Homo sapiens: one gene and its partners. The protein of the gene in region 1 interacts with the protein of each later gene in a pairwise test. Each region holds a gene or a part of one and is shown on either strand. Other genes may lie near its edges. The genes, in order: MGAT5B, TRIM35, RBP3 and ATP23.

Region 1 (5,967 bases):
CGCATCCACTGCAGAGAGGGCCAGGCTGGGCAGGGGGCTGCGCCAGCCCCACTGACCCTCGGGGACTCCCCCGCACGTGCACCCCCAGGGGTCCTGAGGTCAAGGATGGGGCCCATGTGGCCCACCCTACTGATGCAACAGGGGACAGGGCAGAGAAGAGATTGAACCAGGACCCGCCTGAAGGACCCCAGAGATGGCAGGGGCAGGACCACCAGCCCTCATGTCTGGAAAGAGGAGAGACTGGGAGAGAACACTGGCTCAAAGGTCTGGGGCAAAGAGCCAGGAGGCCTGGCTGTCTCCCTCTCCCTCTGGTCCCCGTCTCCCTGCTACCAGAGCAGGATTGGGCTAGAGGCCAAGGTCAGGGAGCAGCCTCCAAGGCGGCCAGGGCTGGAGCCAGGGCGGGATCCACCTGCAGTGATCCCAGATGGTCACCAAGGAAGGGGTCTGCGGCACCACCGCCCACCCCTTAGGGCGTTCAGAACCAGTGGGGAGCTGACTTCACGGCTGTGGACGACTCCTACAAGGGCAGACTTCATGCAGCCAGTGGTGGCCCCAGAAATGGGGCAGGAAGACTCTCCGTCCAGCTGTTGGCTGGGCCAGGAGGAGCAGGGACAGGGCAGCCAGGGCCACTCCTCTGAGTCTCTGGGGGAATCCGGCTGCTGGCGGTGACACTTGGAGATTTAATCATTTGCTGTGAGAAAGCACCGACACCTGAGGGAGACTCTTTCTGGGGGATTTGGATTGATGGGTGGGGTGGATGCACTGAGCAGAGAAGCTGTTTCCCTGAGGTTGGCCTCTGCCAGCTTGTGCCTGGGTGAGGGGCCAGGGCCAGACAGAGAGGCCCTAGCTGTAGACATCCCCACCCCTCAGCCCCAGGCCTCACCTCCACCTTCCCTGAGCAGTCAGGGAACTTGGGGTCACTGGGTGCCTCACACTGGTCCCGCCGGCCTTCTGACACTGTAGGGAGAGGTCACCTTGCTGAAGTCCCTGGTCCAAGGAGGAGCCCAGGGAGGGAGGCCTGCGTGCGGGAGGCAGCTTCCCACACAATCCGCTGCCAGGCTTTCCCACCTTAAAGCTCATCAGCCGCACAACCCACCCACAAGGTCAACCCGGGCCTAGGTTGCCCCCGGCCTCCTCAGGGGGTTCAGATGCAGTGAGGAGCTGGTGCGAACAGCCACTCAGCAGCTGCCTGGATGGGCAGACCTCATGCACCCACCCGAAAGCATCCCCAGCGTTTTCTGAGGAGGCAGAAATGAGGTTTGCAGCCCCCAGCTCGCTGCTCCCCACATCACAGGGACTGGAGGGGCCGCCGAGGGACCCTTCCCCAGGTGGCCTCACTCCTGGAACTGTGGACCCCAGAAGCTGAGACTCCAGGGACCTCCTCTGTCCTCAGCGCCCTCCTGCCGGGTCGAGGGAGTGAACCCCCAGTTGTCCTGCTGAAAGCCTAAACTGGGGCCCCGAAGAGCCAGCAGAGCTGCTGTCAGGAGAAGTCGGCCACACCCCAAGTGTCCCACCCTCCCAGGGCCCACCCAGCACCCAGTTCATTGGCCCCCTAGGGGTAGAGGGTACCCCCGCCCCCTGGCACCCACCCTTGCTGTGCAGGAGCAGACTGTGGCGCAGGATCTGGTCCACCTTCACAGCGATGTCGGAGACGTTCTGGGCAATAGCCTGGATCCGCTCCATGAGGCCGGCCCCAGGGGGCATCCTAAGTGGGAAAAGCCAGAGGTGAGCCACAGAACCGGCCGGGGTGACCTTCCCATGAGGGTCCTGCCAGTAAGGCCCACAGGCAAAGGCGGCAGGCTCTGCAATGCCCCAGGCTCCCAAACCCTGACCCCAAGCAGACCAAATGGTGGGGAGTGAATCGGGTGAGAAGATGGAGCTGGCAGCCCACCCCATCCAGTACACACATTACAGACATACGGGAAAGCCCATATCTGCACATGTTGGTCACAACTGCATGTTGTGCCCACAACTGCATGTGTGATCATATCTGCAGAGAGCCCTTTAGTGGACATCCCCCACCCCTCGGCCCCAGGCCTCATGTCCACCTTCCCTGAGCAGTCAGAGAACATGTCTTCATGTGGCCACAACTGCACGTGTGCCCACAACTGTACAGGTGCCCACATCTGCACATGTCCCCACATATGCACACGTGCCCACAACTGCATGTGCGCCCACAACTGCACACATACCCATAACTGCACATGTAATCATATTTGCATGTGTGGCCACAACTGTACATGTGCCCACATCTGCATGTGTGCCCACAATGGCACGTGTGCCCATATCTGCACATGTGACCCTATCTGCACGTGTCAGGCATGTCCGTGCATTACTGCATGTGTGCTGAAGGGCAGTGCATGGGGCTGAAACAGGCAGAGGAATTCCATTCAAGAGCCTGGCTAGGTTCTGTCCAGGGGTCACACAGGTGACAGAGGCCTTTTCCTAGGCACAGCCGGGCCTCTCCGAGTCTGTCTCTATTTCCTCCCAAGAGGCCATATTGTGCCAAAATAAATTCTACCCGCAGAAGCCTGGGAACTTGCCAGGTATTAAAACTCCGGTAAATTATCACTGGCTTCCTGAGAACAAATCCTTCCCAGGATCTTAAAGGAGGTGACTGCCACCACCACAGCCCTCCACCTCACCATCGATACCAGTGTTGCTTTTATTTTTGGAGGATTTATTTCCTGTGTTGATTACTACTCAGCTCTCAGGGACATTTATTAGCCGTCATATGCAGTATTTATCTCATTGCAAACTTCTATTGAGATGGATTCCCCTCAGCTGGCAGATCTTCTCACACAAAGATAGCCCTGGGGGTCTTTCTCCAGGAAGCTGCTTGCCTTTTTTTTTTTTTAACACATTAATTCGGTTTCCTTTGATTCTCACCTCACCCCGTGGCTTTGCAGGCCCAGTTTAAGCTCCGTTTATCCCTATACAAGGTACTGGTCTTTATGGCTGCACATAATGGGAATTCGATGAAGGATTTTTCCAACCTGGGCTCCGTTCGGGTCTGCAAACCCCACCTCTCCTCCTCTTCTGAGCCTAGTGAGCTGTCCACTAGAGAAGGCATAGCAGGAACCCTCAATGGCCACCCGCCCTCTACAGCCATCACACTCTCCCACCTCCACCTTTCCTAAGGAAAGAAAGGGCAGTGGCCCCATACACATCGGGGGACTAGTCAGGGTGACAGGTGGGAGCAAAGCAGACACCGAAGTGGAGGGGACAAAAGGCAGATGACAGGAATGGGGAACAAGCCCCCCATGTACACACATGCACACACACATGCACACAGGCGTGCACACGCACACACTCACACACAAACACGCACGCACACATGTACACACGCACACACACACATGCACACACATGCACACACACGCACACATGCACACACAATCCAGTCTGTCCTCTCACTCTAGTTCAGTGCCCAAGGCAAACTTTGACAAAAACAAACAAACATAAAACTCTTAAAATAAAAAATGCCACCATTTTTGTGTTAGTTTCCTGGGGTGACTGCAATAATTTCCACAAACCAGGTGGCTTAAAACCACACCCATTTCTCCTCTGGCAGCTCTGGAGGCTGGAAATCAGACAGCGAGGTGGCAGCAGGGCCGGCGCCTTTAGACTCTAGGGGAGCCTCCCCCAGGCCTCCCTCCCAGCTTCCAGAGGTAGCAGCAGCCCTCAGTGTTCCTCAGCCCGTGGCTGCTCCACCCCGACCTCTGCCTCCGCCTTCACACGGCCTTCTCCCCTGTGTGTGTCTGTGTCCACTTTCCTCTCTTTATAAGAACACCAGCCATGGAACCAGGGCCCATCCAAATCCAGTAGCACCTCCTCTTAATTTGATTACATCTGCAAAGAGCTTATATCCAAATGAGGTCATAGTCACAGGTCCTGGGGCTAGGACTTGGACATGGCTTTTTGGAGCACAAAGTTGAATGCACGACAGCCTTCTGTGAGATTACAAAGAAAGAGAAGAGACGTAAAAGCTACCTGCTTCATTTGCTCAAAAAGTCCTCAGGAAGAAGGAAGTAGGAGTATTTTTCATCTATCCAAAACTCATCAAGGTTCATTACCAGTATGATACAAGGAGATGAGAGGAAGCTCAGACCCCTATGAGCTATGTGACCCTGGGCAGGTCACCGAGCCTCTCTGTGCTCACCAGTCTCATCTTTTAAGACATAAGGGCAGCTACCATGGTGAGGACTGAATGAAGAGAGCTGTAAAGTGCGTGGCCAGCGGCACCTGTGTGACATCAGCACTGTTTGCATTCGTGATCAGCACTGATATTGATGTGGTTGAAGCAGCAGCCACAGGGACTTGGGTTAGACCAGGGCACATCAACCTTTTCTCATTATTGCCCGTCTAGGAGGTTTCTTACAGCTAAGATTGTTTCAAGAACCAGTGTTCTCCCTTTTGGCAGTGATGTGCTCCCACCGAGAATGCCTGGGTTCCCTCCAAGAAGAAACATGCCGATTTGATGTCTGCCAGGCTCTGACATCAGTCCAGATGAAGCCCGTGGAGCTGCTTTCCATGCTGACCTACAGGGGCAAGATGGACACTCCTTTGACAGGAATGAATATTTTTTTATATACACAGAGAGAGAGAGGGAGAGAGAGAAGGGCTCTCACTCTGCCACCCTGGACAGAGGCTGGAGTGCAGTGGCGCAATCATGGCTCACTGCAGTCTCAACCTCCCGGGCTCAAGCCATCATCCCACTTCAGTTTCCCAAGTAGCTGGGACAATAGGCATGAGCCACCACGTCCGGCTAATTTTTTTTTAATTTTCTGTAGAAAATATATTGCCCAGGCTGGTCTCCAACTCCTGGGCTCAAGTGATCCTCCCGCCTCAGTCTCTGAAAGTGCTGGGATTACAGGTGTGAGCCACCATACCCAGCCTGGAATGAATATTTCAAGGACAGAGTGCAGAGGCAGGGAAACCTCCACTGCTGCAGGCTCAGAGCTGGAGACGAGCCGGGCTCTAAGGCTCCCATCATGACAGGAGGCACGCAAAATGGAGAAAAACTGGGCGCCTGTCCTACCTTCTAACCAGAGACCCCAGGGCACAAACAACCTATGTCAAGACAAGCCAAGCCAGGGGTCCTGCCAGGTCAACTAGAGACTTTGGAACGGACCTCAACCCGTTTCAGCCCTTCCTGGAGGCACCTCTCCCTGGAGCGAGGCTCCTCTCCATCCGTCTTGCAAGAGCCAGGTCACTTTCTGAACCCCCTGACCCACGGTGGGTGTGGTTGTGAGTGGCCAGCCTGAAACCCCGAATGGAGTCCTGAGTCCTCCAGGACAGGGACTTGGCTTTCCTGTGTGGAACCAGATGCTGGCCAGCGTGGGCCCTGTGCTCGGGGCTCCATCACTTAGGCTGAAGAGTGTCTCCAAAATTCATATCCAGCTGGAACTTCAGAATGTGGCCTTATGTGAGGGATAAAAGACTACACATAGGGTGCAGTGTATACTGCTCGGGTGATGTGTGCACCAAAATCTCACAGATCACCACTAAAGAACTTACTCATGTAACCAAATACCACCTGTACCCCAATAACCTATGGACATAAAAAAAATACTAAGCTACTGCTATGTGCAATGACATAGACGAATCTCAGAGTCAGAATGTTGAGCATGATAAGCCAAATAAAAAAGATTATGGGCCGGGCACAGTGGCTCACGCCTGTAATCCCAGCACTTTGGGAGGCCAAGGAGGGTGGATCACCTGAGGTCAGGAGTTTGAGACCAGCCTGGCCAAAAAAAAAAAATTAGCCGGGTGTGGTGGTGCGCGCCTGTAATCCCAGCTACTCAGGAGGCTGAGGCAGGAGAATCGCTTGAACCCGGGAGGCAGAGGTTGCAGTGAGCCGAGATCGCGTCACTGCACTCCAGCCTGGTGACAGAGCAAGACTCTGTCTCAAAAAAAAAAAAAAATAAAAAGATTATGTACTCTGTGACTCCATTTATATGATGT
Region 2 (5,967 bases), on another chromosome or scaffold:
CACATTATAACATTAAGATTTTTTATTTATTTATTTTATATTTTTTACTTTTTTGAGATAGAGTCTCATTCTTCTTGTCCAGGCTAGAGTGCAGTGGCGCAATCTCGGCTCACTGCAACCTCTGTCTCCCAGATTCAAGCAATTCTCTTGCCTCAGCCTCCCAAGTAGCTAGGATTACAAGTGCCTGCCGCCATGCCCAACTAATTTTTGTATTTTTAGTAGAGACAGGGTTTCACCATGTTGGCCAGGCTGGTCTTGAACTCCTGATCTCAGGTGATCCGCCCGCCTCGGCATCCCAAAATGCTGGGATTACAGGCATGAGCCACCGCGTCCAGCCTACGTTAAAGATTAGTTATAAACACACACAAAATAGGTTTTTATTCATACTAAAGGATCCAGAATGTGATCATATAGACTACATGATTTCCCAAAAATGACAAGTTGATTCCTTAAGCAACAAATTTCAATTGCATATTGAAGATCTTAAGCACTTTACAAAATCACGTTACCCACAATTTTCATTAACAGGACAGGTGCTCTGTGGTATAGCTGGAAGCAGGAAGGTAGGGGCAAGGGAAAGAATGAATTTCATTGCACAAGGTCTTCATAGCCTCTTTGCAAGGACTTACCAAAGTGCTAGAGTTGCATGTGAAACCAGCTCTGTCTGGCCTGAGCCAGGTTTTCTGTCTTGTGAGACTTGATACACACTGTTGCTCTGCCTGGTTCCCACCTGCTTCCCCCAACTAACCCAACATCACCTTGAAAACTCGGCTCTAGTACCCCTCATTTCCTCCAGGAAGCCCCCCGATCTTGCCAGCTCAGGTTCCATTCCAGGGCATCACAGCACCCTGGCCACCTCTGTCTCAGCACTCACTATCCAGGGTAATAGCTTCTCTTTCCTGAGGGCAGGTCTTAACCTCCAGGTCCTCTCTACCTTGCATAGTGGTGCTCGGTACACTTCTGCAGAAGGAATGCTTGCTCTGCAAGGTGAGAGACTTTGTTTTGTCCCCTGCATGTCCAAGTCCCTGCACAAAGTAGATGTTCAGTTAACCACCTGCCCAGTCAATGAGTACATGGAATGCCTGTGTTTTTTCTGCTATATACCTTGCCTCCTGGACTGAAGGTTAGGAGAGCTGGTTTGGAGCCTTGTCTTTGTCACTATCCACTGGTGAGTTGGTAAAAAGTTCCTTCTCTCTTCGGCTATCAGGCTCCTCACCTTAAAAATGAAAGCAGAGAAGTCTCTACAGTCTCCCAAATTTCACGATTTGTTTTCAGGCAGATTGATGTAGCAGCCAAGAGTTCTGGCACCTGGCCGACCAGGTTCAAATCCCAGCACCTCTACCTAGTAGCAGGTGATCTTGAACATGTTCCTTCACTTCTCTGCACCTCCATTTCCTCATCTGGATAAGAGGGATAAAAAATACTACCAAGCTCAAAGGACTGCTGTGAGGACTCCACAAATCAATCCCTATAAGATGCTTACATGAGAGTGGCAGGCACATGCTGTGCATTCGGCATAGCTCTTAAGTGCCACCTACATGCCAGGTAACCTAACTGTCCTGCTGGATATGGTCCAGGTTTCTTAAATGAACAGTAAAAATGCATGGAGCTTTCTTATGCAACTCCAAATCAGTCTCCCAGATCTGTCTTTCCCCTTTGTGTTCAGACCTCCTTCCAAAGCAAGTGTCTGCCATGCAGCCCACTGCTGGAGGCCATCACTCAGGAGCCTCAGTGTGCAGGGTCTAGTGAGACACCCCCCACTCCCAATACCACTGGGCACAGGCCTGGACAAGCAAGCAAGCAACAATGTCCTCTGGTGCAACCAAAGAGCTGGTAAGTCCTCACCTAGAAGCTGGGGATCAGGATGGGGGTGAGTGGTTAGGAAATGGGGAAAAGCATTGGAAGGGGGAAGACCTGGAATGTGGCTTAAGAGGTATCGAGAGTACCCTTGGGTTAGATCCAGCCAGATGGACTCTAAGATGTTGACGCCAGAAGGGGAGAGAGGGCTGGAGCTGGGACAGGGAGAGGCTGGTGGCAAAGAATGGTCATCATGCCAGTCCTGCAAGATGGATAAGACAAGGGTCTGCACAAGGCAGCTCAGCACAGGGCTGCTGTAGAAGATGCAAGCTGGAGAGTGCTGGACTGGGAGGCAGGAAACCTGAGTTCTGATCCTAGAACTTTATTTATTTATTTATGTAAGATACAGGGTCTCACACTGTTGCCCAGGCTGGATGCAGTGGCCCAGTCATAGCTCACTGCACCCTCGAATGCCTGGCCTCAAGCAATCCTCCCATCTCAGCCCCTCGAGTAGCTGGGACTACAGGTATGTGCCACCACACCCGGCTAATTTTTTTCTTCTTTGGTGCAGGATCTTGAACTACTGGCCTCAAGCAATCCTCCTGCCTCAGCCTCCCCAAGCACTGGGATTACAGGCATGAAACACACTGGCCTTGATCCACTTCTCATTACTTAGATGTAACCACCTCCTCACAAGATGTAACCATTCCATCACAATAGAATGACGCACGGTCTGTGTCTGAGGATGTTTTCATTTAATGGCAACCTAAACCAAACCTAAGACAATCCTACTCCAAGCCACGACATAAACAGCGCTGACACATGCTTTCAGTTCACAACTTCATCATCAGCATTCGTATTTTCTTTTTTTCTTTCTTTTTTTTTTTTTTGAGACAGTGTCTTGCTCTGTCGTACAGGCTGGAGGGCAGTGGCACGATCTCGGCTCACTGCAACCTCCATCTCCCGGGTTTAAGCGATTCTCCTGCCTCAGCCTCCCAAGTAGCTGGGACTACAGGTACCTGCCACCATGCCTGGTTAATTTTTGCATTTTTAGTAGAGATGGGGTTTCACCATACTGGCCAGGCTGGTCTCGAACTCCTGACCTCGTGATCTGCCTGCCTCGGCCTCCCAAAGTGCTGGGATTACAGGCATGAGCCACCACACCCGGCCACCATTCATATTTTCTTAACAGCTTACTTGATATCAAGACATGACTTTCATCGTCTTGTCCTGATAAGGAAAGAAGAGAAATACACATAGCAGGTAAAGAATGTGCCGGACCCAAATGAAGGCCAATCCCGTAACAAGAAAGCTCCAGAGCTCTTCAGAGAAATTTGGGCGGATTAAGTAGTCACTTGGAACAGAGTAATGGGAGAATCAGAAGTATCTTGGCCAGGAGTAGAGATTTTGTTCCAGCAAAATAAAACTTTAGAATTAATATTTTAAGTGGAATGTTATTGATTATAGTTTTGTATTCAGTCTGTTCACTTCCTTTTGTTTTATTGCTTATATGTAGCATGAGCAAGTGCTATTTATACCAGGTTTGCATTTGTATGCATGTAAATAATAACATAATTTAACTCTCACTGGCTAGACTATTTTTTCCTTTAAGAAGAATGCATACTTGTTCAAGTTTGAGAAACGCCAGACTAGGATTTCTGAAGGTCCTTCCAAGCACTGTTCCTTGCTACAGCTCTGCTGTAAACATGATGCCAGGCTCCCAAATCTCATCAGTCCTTCCATCATGCGCCACTGCACCTACGATAAAAATCCCAGCTCCTAAGCAGGGCCCTCTGTGTCCTGTGGGATCTGTCCTGCAGTTCCTCATCCCCACGTGAACCATCTCTCAGTCACTGCACACCCCCACGCTGTGCCCCGCCGCCACACCCCCGCCACACACACACACTGCTCGCCGCCCCTCAATCAGCTCCTCTCAGCGAAATCACTTCCTTGGAGACTCCTTCCCACACCCCACCAAACAAGAGCAGCCTCCCCCTTACAATCTCCCACCACATCCTGTACTGTCCTTCACAGGAATGTTGAGCTGAAACTATGTAATTATTAGTGAGATGATACAACCATGCCCACAAAGGCAAGGTCTAGGACTGTCCGGTCCTGTCCTGGACACAGTACTGGCACACAACCAGTACCTTCTGCCAGCCCTGACAATGGTCAACAGCCACTCCAACCCCTAACACACAGTCAGCTGCCCGCTGAAGTCTGAGATGAGAGAAACCTCTCTCAAAGTCCAGGACCAGTGTGTGAACTGAACAAGGCTCCAGGTGATCTTTAGAGCTACTTGCTCTGTGACTTTGGACAAGTTTCTTACCCTCTCTATGATTCTATAATTGTCTATAAAATGGGGATAATAGCACCTAACTGTAGCAAGCTGAATAATTATTTCCCCGAAAAGATGTCCCCATTCTAATCCCCAGAATCTTGTATGGCAAAAGGGACTGTGCAGATGATTAAATTAAGGATCTTGCTGTGGGGAGGTTATCCTGGATTACCTGGGTGGGCCCAATGTCATCACAGGGTCCTTATGAGAGGGAGGTAGTAGAACTGGTCAAAGAAGTCAAAGTGACAACAGATGCAGAACGGAATGACACACTTCAGAGCTGGAAGAAGGGGCCTCTGCAAGCTGGAGAAGGCAAGGAAATAAATTCTCCCTGGAGCCTCCAAAAGGAATGTAGCCCTGCAGACACCTCGATTTTAGGACTTCCAACCTCCAGAACCATAAGAGAACAAACTTGTGCTATTTTAAACCACCACATTTATTACGCAGTAACAGGAAACACAGGACCTGAAAATACGTTTTTGTGAGCATTAAATTTGTTGACGTGTGAACACTGAAAAGCATCTAGCACACAGTGAGCACTGAAATGTGTTAGCTGGGATGATTTTGACTTTGCTGTTCCTCACATAGATAGTTGGCAAAGTAATCTTTCTCTAAAACACACATCCCATCACAAACTCCCCTGTTTAGAATCTTTCAGAGCTCCCCACAGCACAAAACGGAAAACCCCCTCAGTGAGGCACACAGCTTCTTACCCAGTCCCTTCTTACCAAGTGGTGGAGGGAATCTTCCCATACCGCTCCCCCACAACCACCTACCTTGAATCACACAGAACTACATCTTGTCTATTGACTGTCTATGCCCCCTGCTCAAATGAGAATTCCATGAAGCTAAGAAGAGGCCACAGCACACAACAGCCATCAGTACCCATTTGTCTAGTAAATGAGTGATTTGCACCCTGCATCAGGCTGACCACACCTGGCTCTCATTCTTCTCAGATCCATTTGGGACTAGACTACTCAGCCCCTGACATCATCCTGAGTGTCCACTGACTTGACACCATCATTCTTCTGCTAAAACCCCCAGCTGCTGTTCACAGCAAGGGTGAGCCACCGGCCTCCTGGATCCTCCTGCACGTCCCTCCTCATTCTAACTACCCTTAAATTCCCTCAGTGCCTAGAAAGTCAGGCTTTCCCACTTCTGGACCCTTCCAAATGCTGCTGCCTCTATCTGAAATACCCTCTTTCACCTGGCTAACACCTCCTCTTCCCTCGGGTCTCTGCTGGAAGCTCCTTGAGGCTGGAAATGGTCTATCTTGTCTCCTGCAGTATCCCTGGGACCTTGCAGTACCAGGCATCTGCTGGTGCATGGCTCTCTGCTCTTGAATCCTGGCTTGGCCCCAGCCTGGGGGCTCTGCCTGGGTGTTCTCAGCCCTGACCCCAGCATCTCCTGATCAGCACCTCGGCCAGCCAAATAGGCATCAGTCATGACCTGAACCATGATCCCTCCTTTACCTGGGCCCCAGACCCCTGGCTGGCCAGCACTTATTCCAGCTGTCCCAAATCAGGATCTGTCACTTCTGCCAGTGGAAACAGGAAAAGCATTGACATGGACCCATGTTAAACAAAAAAGATGACAGGAGTAACAGGGTTACTCATTGAGACATGCGTACTGACAGCATCCTTACATTCCCCTTCAATTAAACTTTGTCAAATGCATTTGGAGCGGAACAGACTTCCGTATTTAAAAAGGTATTGCAAAAAAAGAAGGCAGGGCCACAGAGGGGGCCAGAAACCAGGCACAGGGGACTCGGGCAGCTCCTCCTCTCCAGTCCATGCAGCTTCGGGCCAGCTACCCAGTGTTCTCCCAATTGG
Region 3 (5,967 bases), on another chromosome or scaffold:
AGGAGCTGCCATCCGAGGCCCCCACAGAACGGGCCGTGGGGATAGTGAGGTAGAGGTTGGTGTCATCCACGTGGTAGGTCTGTGGTGGCTGGCAGCCCCCACTGGTCACCTCCCCAATGACCAGGGCCCGGCCCAGCCTCTTCATGATATAGGTGAACTCCTCCGCGGTGCCGGCCGTCACACTGCTGGTCAGAATGACCATGCTCTTCTTGGAGCCATAGCGTTCACCTGGAAGACATAAGGCCCTTCAGGATGGGGGTCATGTCAGGACCCTGGAGCACCTGTCTTCTCTATCCTGCCTGGGCCTGCAGTGATGGAGGAGGCCCGGGGGTTTAGGTCTGTGTCCTTGTGTCCACTTGTGAGCCACTTGACTTCTCTGAGCCTTGATTTCTGCATCCGTAAAATGGGGACAAGAATGCATGCCCAATCACGAGGATTTCAGTGCTTGACAACTCCCAACGAGGCCTTTTTATGCCAAGTGATAGGAAAGGCTTGACTCTCCTGAGAAAGGAGCATCCTCTCTCTTCATGAATAATGAGAACACCTAAACCGACCTGACTTCCTTTTCACTTTGGACTCAGAAAAGCCCAATTTGTGATGTATAAGAACAACTCTCCAGGACAGCACTGTCCAACAGGAATGCAACGTGAGCCAGAATGCTGGCCATAGATGTCATTTTAGGTTCCCTAGTAGCCATGTTAAGCAAGCAAAAAGAAACCCATGGTGTTAATTTTAATCATGTTTTGTTTAAGCCAATGTATCCAAAATACATTCTTTTCAAAATGTAATCAAATAAAATTATTAATGAGGTTTTCTTTTCATAATGTCTTCAAAATCTGGTATGCACATTACACTTCCAGCACATCACACTTCCAGCACATCTCAACTTGGGAGAGCCACATTTCAAATGCTTGGTGGCCGCAGGTGGCTTGTGGCTCCCATATTGGACCTTGCGGTTTTGGGGCCTCATTATCTGCAGAATTGAGTCTATCTTTAACTTCCAGTCTTGAACATCTATTTGAATTTAGAATTCACCTGGTTCTGATTTGCATTTACACTTGTAATATTATTGAACGTATGTCCTAGGAGCTACAGCAAAATGCCTGTGTATTACAGAAGCATGGACATGAAAATGGTGGGGTGTTTCTCTGGTCACAGGCACACCCCCATCGGTCTCTCCAGTCCTTTCTTGTTGGGTAGGAGCACAAGTTCCTTGGTCTTACACACTGGGCAGGGAAGATAGATGGAGGCCATCCACCCTGGAATGGGGCTTTGAGAGTTATGGTTCTGTAAAGCTCAGGGCCTGCCTTTGCTCCTATAGCCACTGCTCTGGGCCCAGGGCGGGGAACAGAAGCCCGATCAGCATCATGACCTTTCCAGGCAAGTTTGTGGCACTGTGGCTTGAGAGCTCAAGTACTGTGAGCACTGGCAATGCCCACTGGGGTTGGTGAGGGGCGGGGAGAATCCTTCAAATTCTGCATTTGTCCTGCAGGCTGGTGATTATGGTGCTAAGCCTGGGGGAAATTTTGGTATTAGACAAACTAATATTCACATTTTGGGTTTCACTTATTAGCTGCATGACCCTAGAAAAGATATTTGACCTAGTCAACACCCCCTTTTTTTTCCTCTAGAAAACGGGCATAGTGATACATGCTTTTCAGGGATTCGAGATCATGCACATCTAGTGCCTGGACTAGGACAGGGCCTTACATTCTGGTTACTATGACTTTTACCTACACCCAAGCTGTCTTTCCCTGGTTTCCCAGAAGCTTCTAGAATGACAGCAGAAAGGAGAAAGCTTCTCCACGTACCTACAACCTGGGCGTGTGTCCAGAGTTCACTGACAGAGTCATCAGGCCGGCTGTAGATCTTGTCCAGCAGAACTGGAGGGCCTTCATCAAAGAAGTAGGAGCACAAGATGGGAATGGAGGATGTGGGGCCACCGATGTTGAACCTGAAGGATGGGAAGCAGAGCCTGTTCAGGGGCTGAGCTCACAGTGAGGCCCTGTGTGCCCCTCGGGGAGGCCAGGATCTTTGTCCCATGGAGGGTTCTAATTCTTGGCAGCCTCAGTCTAGTGCCTCTTCCTCCTTTAGAATTCCATGGGTTGGCATTTTCCAGAGTATTTCCAAGAGTACTAGTCTCTTTAGAACAAGAAACTTAGTGATCAAATATGTTATCCTTTCCTTCTGCTATGTAATTAATACATGTTAATATATTAAAGGCCCTGACAAGTCCTGCAGTCAGAAACTTGTTGATAAATTTCCCCCATTTATTGACCATGGACTGCTCCCCTGCACCCATATCTTCCTATGAGTGGAACACATTTTGGGAAACATTGTTTTTCCCGTTGCATTCTGTGACAATCTTATGACACCTACCAGCTGTCTTAGTTCAGGTGTCTTAACAGGGCACTTAGTGTATTGAAATATTCAGGCTTGTGGAGCTGCATTGGGAGCAGGGGAGCCTGTATTTCTCCCAGGCCATTTAGATTTGTCCCACTGTGTGACCTCGTTGGGCCCCTGTCTCCCCACTGGGGCTAGTGATGTGTTAAGGAGCCTCGTCCAACTGATGGCCTGGGATGGCCTGGCTGGGTTCGGGGCCTGTGATGTCAGTGTCTGAACCTCCAAACAAACCTCAGGGGTGGGAGGGTCTTTAAGCAAAGTGCACTTGCAGGCTGGGGCCATCTCCTCTTTAAAAAGTGTAAATGGCATATTCAGAAGAAAGAGACTTAGCATGAGTGTCATTTGGGTGCTCAACAGAACTTCTAAAGAATAAAATGATCAGAGAGACCCCAGGAGCCTCAAGCTCAGGCTGTGAACACACACAGAACTGGAGCCAGGGCTAATGTTTTATCTCCCAGGGAGGAGAAGCAGTGGGTGCAGGACCGAGAGCCACCTAGTGACCACTAAGAACCATGTGAGTGAGCGCTGAGGGCTAGAGAACTGGAGCTGGGTGAATGCTTCTGGTCTGCCACCCCCTGCCACTTCTTTCAGACAACACGGGAGCATGGAAGGGTCCCGTCTGAGGAAGGCAACCTGCCCAGGGAGGGTGCTGGGGCATGTCCACCAATGGACCCCAGAGTCATGGGATGCCAGGTCTGGCCACTGCCTGAGGGTACTCATCCACCTCCTACCCCTGGTCCATGAGGTAAACTCATGACATATGAGGCACATTTTTACAGAAACAGAGGGGAGGTGGCTAGCTGAAGACATCCTTCTGACAATCATTTGGTGATGCAAAGAATTCTTTTGTTAACAATAGTGATTAACTTCTAAATTTTCCCTGTGTGATTTCCAAATTCTGCCTGTACGATTCATATGACCAGGGTTGTCATGTGTTGATTTTGTATGATGTGAGGCACACTCCCAGGTGGGGGGCCTGGCTGTCTCACACACCACTGACCATCAGAATCACCTGGGATGCCTGTCAAATAGAGATTATCGGGCCTGTCCCCTGGAGCTTCTGAGTCAGTAAGAGGGGAGTGGGGCCCAGGAATCAGTGTTTTTAACATCTCCTTCCTCTCCTCCCCACTGAATCCTATGACCAGGCAAATCTGGGGTAATTCTCAATCTGGAATGCACATTGGAATCACTGGAGAAGCTTGCAAAAACTACCAGTGCTGGGCCCCACCTGCAATGACAGCAGATCTGCTGGGCTAGCTGGCCGAAGCCCTGATAGGCAGGAGGCCTGGCCCCCCTCAGGTCCTCTGCTGTGTCACAGGGTTCCTTTTCTTCCCTGCTGTGGCCCATAGCTTTGACTGTCCCCTGGCAGCCCTGCGTCCTGGCTAGGAAGCACTGACCCCTGGCCACTGACCTCATGTCGATGATCATGGCATCCGTGTGCATGATCTTCTTCCAGATGTGCTCCACCAGCAGCCTGGAGACCTGGGTGAGCAGCTCACCGTCCCCAAACATGTCAAACCTCAAGTAGCCAATGTTGTCCTCAAGCACGTTAGTGTGGAAGGAAAACTTGATCAGCTCTTCAAATACTTCAGGGGAAGGGATCTGTAAGAGTTGGAGGTCCTACTCAGTGTCAGGAGGAGCAGCCAGTTTTAGAGCCCAGGAAAGCAGGCGCCATGGGAAATATTAAGGGCATGGGACAGGAACTAACATTTCTGAAGGAATTAGTAGACACCAGGGACTTTCCCAGTGGCATGTCTGGATGTGACATGCCACTGGGACATGTGTGATCTATGGGCAGCCTCCTTGCAGAGGATGCTCCTGTCTGCCACCCACATGCCCTGGTGTCCTGAGCTAGAAGGCCCAGGAATGGACTCCCCTCTGACCTCTCCAACCTTACCAGATACTTCCTATGTCTCTAAGCTGCTCCACTGGGGCAGGATTGGAAGATGTTAGTTACCTTTACCAGGCACCTGGCCCGGTACTAAGCACTTTGTAGAGCTTATCATCATCCTCACAGCCACCTGTACAGGAGATAACACGATCCCCATCTTTTCCATGGAAAAACTGAAGCACAGAGAGATTAAGTAACTAGTCTCAGGTCACACAGTCAGTAAGTGGTGGAGCCAGAATCTGAATCCACATCTGACTCCAAATCGTGAACCTTGGCTATACTGGAAAGGAAGGAGATGTTGATTTGGAAACTGGGGATTCTGCAAGCCTAGCACAGGCTACTCGCACGTGGATGCACCTCCTCCTCCCTCTCTAAGGCTGCTGGAGGGAGGCAGGTCTTGGTGAGATTGACAGGCAAGGAGACTTCATTGACAGAGACACTGCCCTCCAGGCCCTGCCCTGCCCTCAGTCACAGCTCTCTGGCCTCAGGCCACTCCCCTCTGCTCCTCTCCGGGCCTCAGTTGCGGAAAATGGGGATAACAATTCTGTAGTAGATGCTTTTGGCACTCTCAGCCCCCTCTGCTTTCAGCTGCACCCGACCCCACTGACAGGCTCTCCTATAGCACAGCCCTGCCTTTCCACCCGTAGCTCAGGCCTTCTCCAAGAAGAGGGAGCCTGCCCCACCCTGAGGCATGTCTCAGGGCAACTCTTGGCCAATGCGGGACAGGAACCACTGGGCCCTGCCTGCAGAGGGCTATGCCTGGGAGCATCCCTGCACTCGTCAGGGTCCTGGCTTCAGCAGAACAGCTTTGAGGCACCTGCCTGTCAGCTTCCCAACCCACTCTCCCTGCTCCCTCCTTCATGCCTGCTTCAGTAACCGCCTCCCAGACAAAGCGCCTGCACCCAAGCCCTGGTCTCAGACCCTCCTTGCAAGGGATCCCATGGCAAATGCTGCCCTGCCCAATTGTGACGATGCAGCAGACCACAGGTAGAACAGTGTGGAGGTGTGAGTGCTGCCTAGGTGGAGCTCTCGGCCAGCGTGGGGCACTTGGTGAAGTCCATTGGCCACCTCTGACAGGTGTTGGCCTCTTCCCTAGCACTGACAATGAGAAGCCCTGCCAACACTCACCTTCCACCCAGCCAAGGCTGAAATGCCTTCTATCCCAGGAGCTTCCGAACTGGCTTCCTGTGAGTATTGGTTGGCTTTCAAACTGGCTTCCTGTGAGGTGGGTGCAAAAGTAATTGCGGGTTTTGCCATTGAAAGTACTTTTGCACCAACCTAATATGAATGTTCTACAGAGGTGTTCAGCAACCCCAGGGTCACAGAGAGTGGATGGAACAGGTTGAGAAAGAGGAAAGGACTTGACCGGTCAAAACTTAAACGTGAGAACAAATCTAAAAGCCATTGTCACGCACTGTGCACAGAGCCCTGCATGTGCGGACAATGGGTCAACTCACTCCCGGGACTGGGTTCAGCCAGGTCTCTCTTGGGTCTCACCTGCATGGGCACAATTCCAGGAATGCGGTCCTTGGCATTCTCAGGGATATGGGCTGCCTTCAGGTGTGGGTCTCCGGAGAGCATCTGCAGGTCAGCCCCCAGGATCTCGGCTAGGGCCACTTCTGAGGTCACCCTGGAGTAGCGGCTCTGCAGACCGCTCAGTTTGGTGGCCATCT
Region 4 (5,967 bases), on another chromosome or scaffold:
TAGAAAAGAATATAAAATTAGCATCTTTGTCTGAGAAAAGAGTATTTGTGACACTTCTTCTTAAAGGACTTTTTAAACTCTATTGACAACGAGAGCAAATATCTATGAGCTATGCTAGACAATGCCAAATACACTGGAGAGATGGGGAAAAGTTCAATCGCCTACCAAAGGAAATTTTCTAAACTTTATGCGTAGCTTTACTGACAGAACTAATTTCTTTTGGAACCAAAAGTCAGAGAGCTAGACCTCAGAGTTAAACTACACACTCTACAAGATACAAATACTTGTAGAAATTGCCAAAAGTACTTCAAGAAAGCATTCTTGAAATAAACTGAGTTTCAATGTGACCTTAAAACTGAATGCATTAATATCTGAGACACTTTGAGAATATGCCCCTCCCAACCCTTGCCCGAATCTCCCTTGGAGCTTCCCTCAAACCTATATAAGTTCATGACCTTCCTCTAGGGACTTGATTGTCCTATGAAAAATGAAGCAATACAAAACACAAAGAATCAAGAACATTCCAAACTGGTCACGCTATGAGCATGACAGCCTGAAATTAGGACATATTTTCAGATTTACTATACTTCAATGAATGAAAAAGTCTTAGAACTACCCACATAGATTCTACAGGCAGCTTGACCACATTTTTGCTAATTCATTGCTAACAGAATGGCCCACTTCTTGTTCCTTCTTCAATATTATGGCCTCATTCCTCTGAGGAGCTCAAAGTACTTAACACACTTTAACTAGCTAAAAGGCATTAATTCTCACAGTACCCAAGAAAGAGACCTATTTAAAAATTCAGGTTTCAGTCTATTCTCCAAATAATTGGAATTATAATTAGATGCAGGGGGCTACATATTAATTTCAAGAGAAAGGGAAATAATCGAAGTTATATAGTATAGGCTTGAGATTTAGATTATTTTAATTAACTCTTCAATTAATGACATCCAAGTATATGCATATGCAGAATACGCTCTCTCTAGGAGCATATTCCAAGAGCAATCCAACGTGCTTAGTAATAAATATCTTTTTATGTTGTATTTTTGAAAAGAGCATGTTTTACTCTAGGGCAAGCAAGGAGCTCTATGGAAGGCAGCTGGGCAAGCTAGTTAAAAACACTAGTTGTAATCCTGCCTCTACCACTTACTAACTTTGGAATCTAAACAACTGTCTCACTTTCCACATATGTAAAACAGGGACAATAATAGTATAATATCTATCTCAGTAGGTTATTGTGAAGATTAAATAAGAATCTGTGCAAACAGAACAGTGTTTGGAACACAGCCCTCAGTAAATTTTAATTATTTTTTTATTTTTATTTTTATTATTAATGTCTCCTATGGAATACATTATAAAATATATTCCATAGGAAAAAATTAATAGCTTATTAAAGTCAGTCATCACTATTACTAGGACTTACAGGATATAGTTAAGAGAATTCTAAAAATACACTTTAAATTTCTCTAACTGTATATCAAAAATGGTATTCAATGTTAGTTATAAACCGAAATTCAAGACTAAGGTAGAACTATGACAGTAAGAAAAGGAATACATTTAAATAAATTACACTTGAATAAAATATTCAAGCATAGAGTATTCTGGAGAAAAATACAATAAAACTCACCTCTGAGCACGCCAAATGTCTGATGTTGGTGAACCAGTCGACATGGGCACGACAATGATCAAATGCATGAATAAGCTCGTGTGTGACCACTCTGTTCATATGGGCCTGATTATGGATATTATTCTGGCACAAAACTATCTAGGAGACACCAAAATAAAAGAAGTTCAGTGATTCTAAAATCTCCTTCCATAGACTCGATCTTCTCTCCCACATGACCTCACCTCTCCCCCACAAGCTCACCTGCCTGGAATATCTCTACCCACTCTTCTTCATTGGCCACACATCTACCCATGGGACAAGTCCTAGTCCTAAGTGTACATGCTCCAATTGCCTCGCCCAGTGACTAACTTCTCCCTTCTCCTCTCTCTGGACTACAGCAGTACTTAGATTAAGGACACGTATTCACACACCATCCTTACTGGGCTGATCGTACTAGTCTGTCTCGGACTCCACAGCATTATGGTTAAGAGAGTGGGCTTTGGAATGAAGCACACAGATTCAAATTCCAGCTCCACCCCTTACTAACTCAGTGACCTTAGGCAAGTTTCTTAATCTCTCTGTACCTCAATTTCCTCAACTATAAAAAGGAGATAATTAGGGTAGCTACCTCATAGAACTGTGAGAATTAAATGAGAATATATGTAAAATACTTCTTATCAAGTTTCTGAATGAGCATTGAATGAAAAAGGAATGACCACCACTGTCCTCATTTTACTAGAATGAGGGCAAATGCCAGGGAAAACTCATCAGAAAGACCTTCAGAAAGAAGTGCAAAACACAACAGCACACTGAGCAGGACCCTATAAGAATAAGAAAGACACAAGGGATCCTAATAGTAATAGCTGCCATTGATTGTGTACTACTGCCAGACACTGGGATATGTGCCAGATATTTATATACATTCATTCAACATCCATTGATTCAACTAATACTTATTGAGACCTAATAATAGATTATAATCTACTGATGGAGATAGAAACTAACCAAATATTTACCAAAATGTTTACATACATGCAATGACAGTTGTCATGAAGAAAAACCCAGGTTGTCATGAGCATATACAATGAGGTTGGGTGCAGTGGCTCATGCCTATAATCCCAGTACTTTGAGAGGCTGAGGCAGGCAGATTCCTTGAGCCCAGGAGTTCGGGACCAGCCTGGGCAACAGAGCAAAACCCCATCTCTATAAAAAAATAAAATAAAAATTAGCCAGGCATGGTGGCACATGCCTATAGTCCCAGCTACTTGGAAGGCTGAGGTAGGAGGATCACTTGAGCCCAGGAGGTTGGTGCTGCAGTGAGCCAGGAACACGCCACTGAACTCCAGCCTGGGCAAGAAAGGGAGACCCTGTGTCAAAAAAAAAAAAAAGAAAAAGAAAGAATGCCTGACCTACTCTGGAGGTGGGGGAAGGTTTCTCTGTGGAAGGAATGGTTAAACTGGTATCTAATGGAGGAATAGAAGTGAAATTTGAGGTGTGGAGGGGAAGGGAGTATTCTAGGCAGAGAGAAAAACCTATGCAAAGCGTAGAGGGAGGGTTGACGGAAGAAAATGCTTGAGAAGCTAAAAGGAGAGCCCTAGAGTTGAAGCACAGCGGTGGGGGTGGTAGGCAACAGATACGGCTGGTGAGGTCGGGGGGCCAAATCCCTGAAGACCTTGTCTTTACCCTAAGAGCAATGGGAAGCTCTCAGGATAAAGGGAATGTTGAAACAGAAGACTGCTTTTGTTTTATTTTGCTTTTATCCTTTTAACTATAGTTGGAAGAATAGGCAGGAGATGGCCAAAACTGGATGCAGAGAAATTAGCTGAAGGCTAATATTCTAGGCAAGAGAGAACAGCACTTCAGCTAGAATGGTGGTGGAAGCCAAAAGAGTTATTTAGGAGGTAAATTAGACAAAATATGTTGATAGAATACGGGGAAGGAATCAGGGGTATCAAAGATGATCCATAAATTTCTGGCTTGGCTAATAGGGTCGATGGTAGCACCATCCACTGAGATATGCAAAACTAAAAGACTGGGTTGAGTGGGGAGATGGGGGATGGTAAAAATCATGAATTTGGACTTACACATTTCAAGTCTGAAGTGTCCTTAAGACCCTTAAGTAGGTGGGGAGCAGTGGCTCTCACTTGTAATCCCAGCACTTTGGGAGGCTGAAATGGAAGGATCATTTGAGGCCAGGAGTTTAAGACCAGCCTGGGCAACATAGTGAGACCTCATCTCTACAAAAAATTTTAAAAGTTAGCTGGGTCCAGTGATGCACTCCTGTAGTCCCAACTACTCAGGAGGCTGAGATGGGAGGATTGCTTGAGCCCAGGAGTTCAAGGCTGTAGTGAGCCATGATTGCGCCACTGCACTCCAGCCTAGGCGACAGAGCAAGACCCTGTCCCAAAAAAACTTTTTTTCCTTAAAAATAAAAATAAATAAATAAATAAAAAGATGCTCAAGTAGAGGTGTTAAATGGGCACTTGGATATATGGAATGTGGAGTTCTTAAAAGTGAGCTTTGACCCCAGAAAATTGATGAGACCTCCTTGGCAGAGTAAGAAAAGAAGGGGCTCTATGACCAAGGATTGAGGGACTTTGACATTTAAATGCTAGTAGAGGAAGGTAAGCTAGCAAAGGAGCAACCAGAAGAGTGCTGTATACTAGAAACCAAAGAAAGTGTTTGGCATTAACAGCTGAAGTCAAGTGTATACAAACTATATGACCCAGTAATTCTGCTCTTGAGCATATACCTTAGAGAAACTCTTGCACATGTGCACCAGTAGCGAAGGTCAAAAATATTCATAGCAGCATTGTTCATAATAACAAAGTTGGAAACAATCAATATTAGAGTAAACTATAGTATAAACACACAACGGAATAAATACCATATAACAGGGAAACGAAATAAACCAGAGAGGTACACACAACAACAAGAAAGAATCTCACAAATGCTGAAGGTGGAAAGTAATTGGAGACTATATACTGTACAATTTCATAATACTACAAAATGCTACATAAAATTCAAAGTATAACATGTATAAAGCTCAAAAGCAGGCAACTAAATAACACACTGTTGGATTGTATATGTAGATGGTAAAGCCATTCAGAAAAGCAGGGAATGGTTACCACAAAAGTCAGGATAAGGAAGGGAAAAGGACCTGATTCAAGAGGACCACGAAGGCTTCTGAAGTCCTAGTAATGTTCTTTTTCTCTAGTCTGGGTGGTGGTTACATAGGTGTGCACTTTATTATTACTGAAAGTGTACATATAGATGTTTTACTCTTCTGTATGAATGAGATACTTCATAATAAAAATTTTCATTTAAAAAAATAGGCCAGGCACAGTGGCTCACGCCTGTAATCCTAGCAGTTTGGGAGGCCAAGATGGGTGGATCACCTGAGGTCAGGGGTTCAAGACCAGCCTGGCCAATATGGTGAAACCCTGACTCTACTAAAAATACAAAAATTAGCTGGGCATGGTGGCACATGCCTGCAATCCCAGCTACTCAGGAGGCTGAGGCAGGAGAATCACTTGAACCCAGGAGGCAGAGGTTGCAGTGAGCCCATATTGCACCACTGCATTCCAGCCTGGGTGACAGAGTAAGACTCTGTCTCAAAAATAATAATAATTTAAAAAATAATAATAAAATAAAAGGAGAGGGTGCCCAACTGTGTTCAACACTGCTGAGAATTAGGATGAAAGTTCAAGATGTGCACTCTGTTTAACCCTGGGGGGACCGAGAAGGGAGTGAACTTATCCAGAGCCATTTTGAGAGCTATAGGTATTGTGATTACCAGTTTACAAATGAGGAAACTGAGAAGAAGAAAAATAACTTGCCCAAGCCCCACAGATAATAAGCAAGGAAACTAGGATTTGAACTCAAGTCTGACTCCAAAATCTAGACTTCTCATCCTTGTTCTATATTGCCACTTCACATGATTACTGTAAAAATGCTATAAATAACCTAAATACATACAAAATTATCCAGCAGGAAACAGTTAAGTGTAGTTAAGTATGAATTATACATTCAAGTGGGAAACAGTTACTTATAACACCATCATTTACCCTGATCACATGACATTATCTACCACCTCCAAGACTCTGTCGAAACTCTCTGATGACTTAAAACTAATAATAAAATTTATTGAATGCTTACTATGGGCCAGGCACTAAGATAAGCAACTCTATAAGAGATATCTCATTTAATTCTCATAATCATTCCATAAAATAGATACAATCGTTGCCCAAATTGTACAGATTAGAAAACTCCCCTAATAAAAAATTTTCACAGGCAGTATCAATTCTCACCACGTAAAGGTAAAAACCCTTTAATTTAGCATTCAAAACCTCCCACCA

The links.
Region 2: the proteins of MGAT5B (region 1) and TRIM35 interact in a two-hybrid assay, tested with the Homo sapiens proteins (one large-scale study listed by BioGRID).
Region 3: the proteins of MGAT5B (region 1) and RBP3 interact in a two-hybrid assay, tested with the Homo sapiens proteins (one large-scale study listed by BioGRID).
Region 4: the proteins of MGAT5B (region 1) and ATP23 interact in a two-hybrid assay, tested with the Homo sapiens proteins (one large-scale study listed by BioGRID).

Annotation. Positions count from the first base shown.
Region 1 is NC_000017.11:76,898,293-76,904,259, reverse strand, and holds part of MGAT5B (alpha-1,6-mannosylglycoprotein 6-beta-N-acetylglucosaminyltransferase B), read right to left. Parts: intron 1,706-5,967; coding exon 1,590-1,705; intron 958-1,589; coding exon 884-957; intron 9-883; coding exon 1-8. UniProt on the Homo sapiens protein: Glycosyltransferase that acts on alpha-linked mannose of N-glycans and O-mannosyl glycans.
Region 2 is NC_000008.11:27,303,657-27,309,623, forward strand, and holds part of TRIM35 (E3 ubiquitin-protein ligase TRIM35), read right to left. Parts: intron 1,188-5,967; exon of another isoform or gene 1,105-1,187; intron 1-1,104. UniProt on the Homo sapiens protein: E3 ubiquitin-protein ligase that participates in multiple biological processes including cell death, glucose metabolism, and in particular, the innate immune response.
Region 3 is NC_000010.11:47,351,363-47,357,329, reverse strand, and holds part of RBP3 (retinol-binding protein 3 precursor), read right to left. Parts: coding exon 5,792-5,967; intron 4,006-5,791; coding exon 3,815-4,005; intron 1,955-3,814; coding exon 1,812-1,954; intron 229-1,811; coding exon 1-228.
Region 4 is NC_000012.12:57,947,559-57,953,525, reverse strand, and holds part of ATP23 (mitochondrial inner membrane protease ATP23 homolog), read right to left. Parts: intron 2,813-5,967; exon of another isoform or gene 2,642-2,812; intron 1,769-2,641; coding exon 1,631-1,768; intron 1-1,630.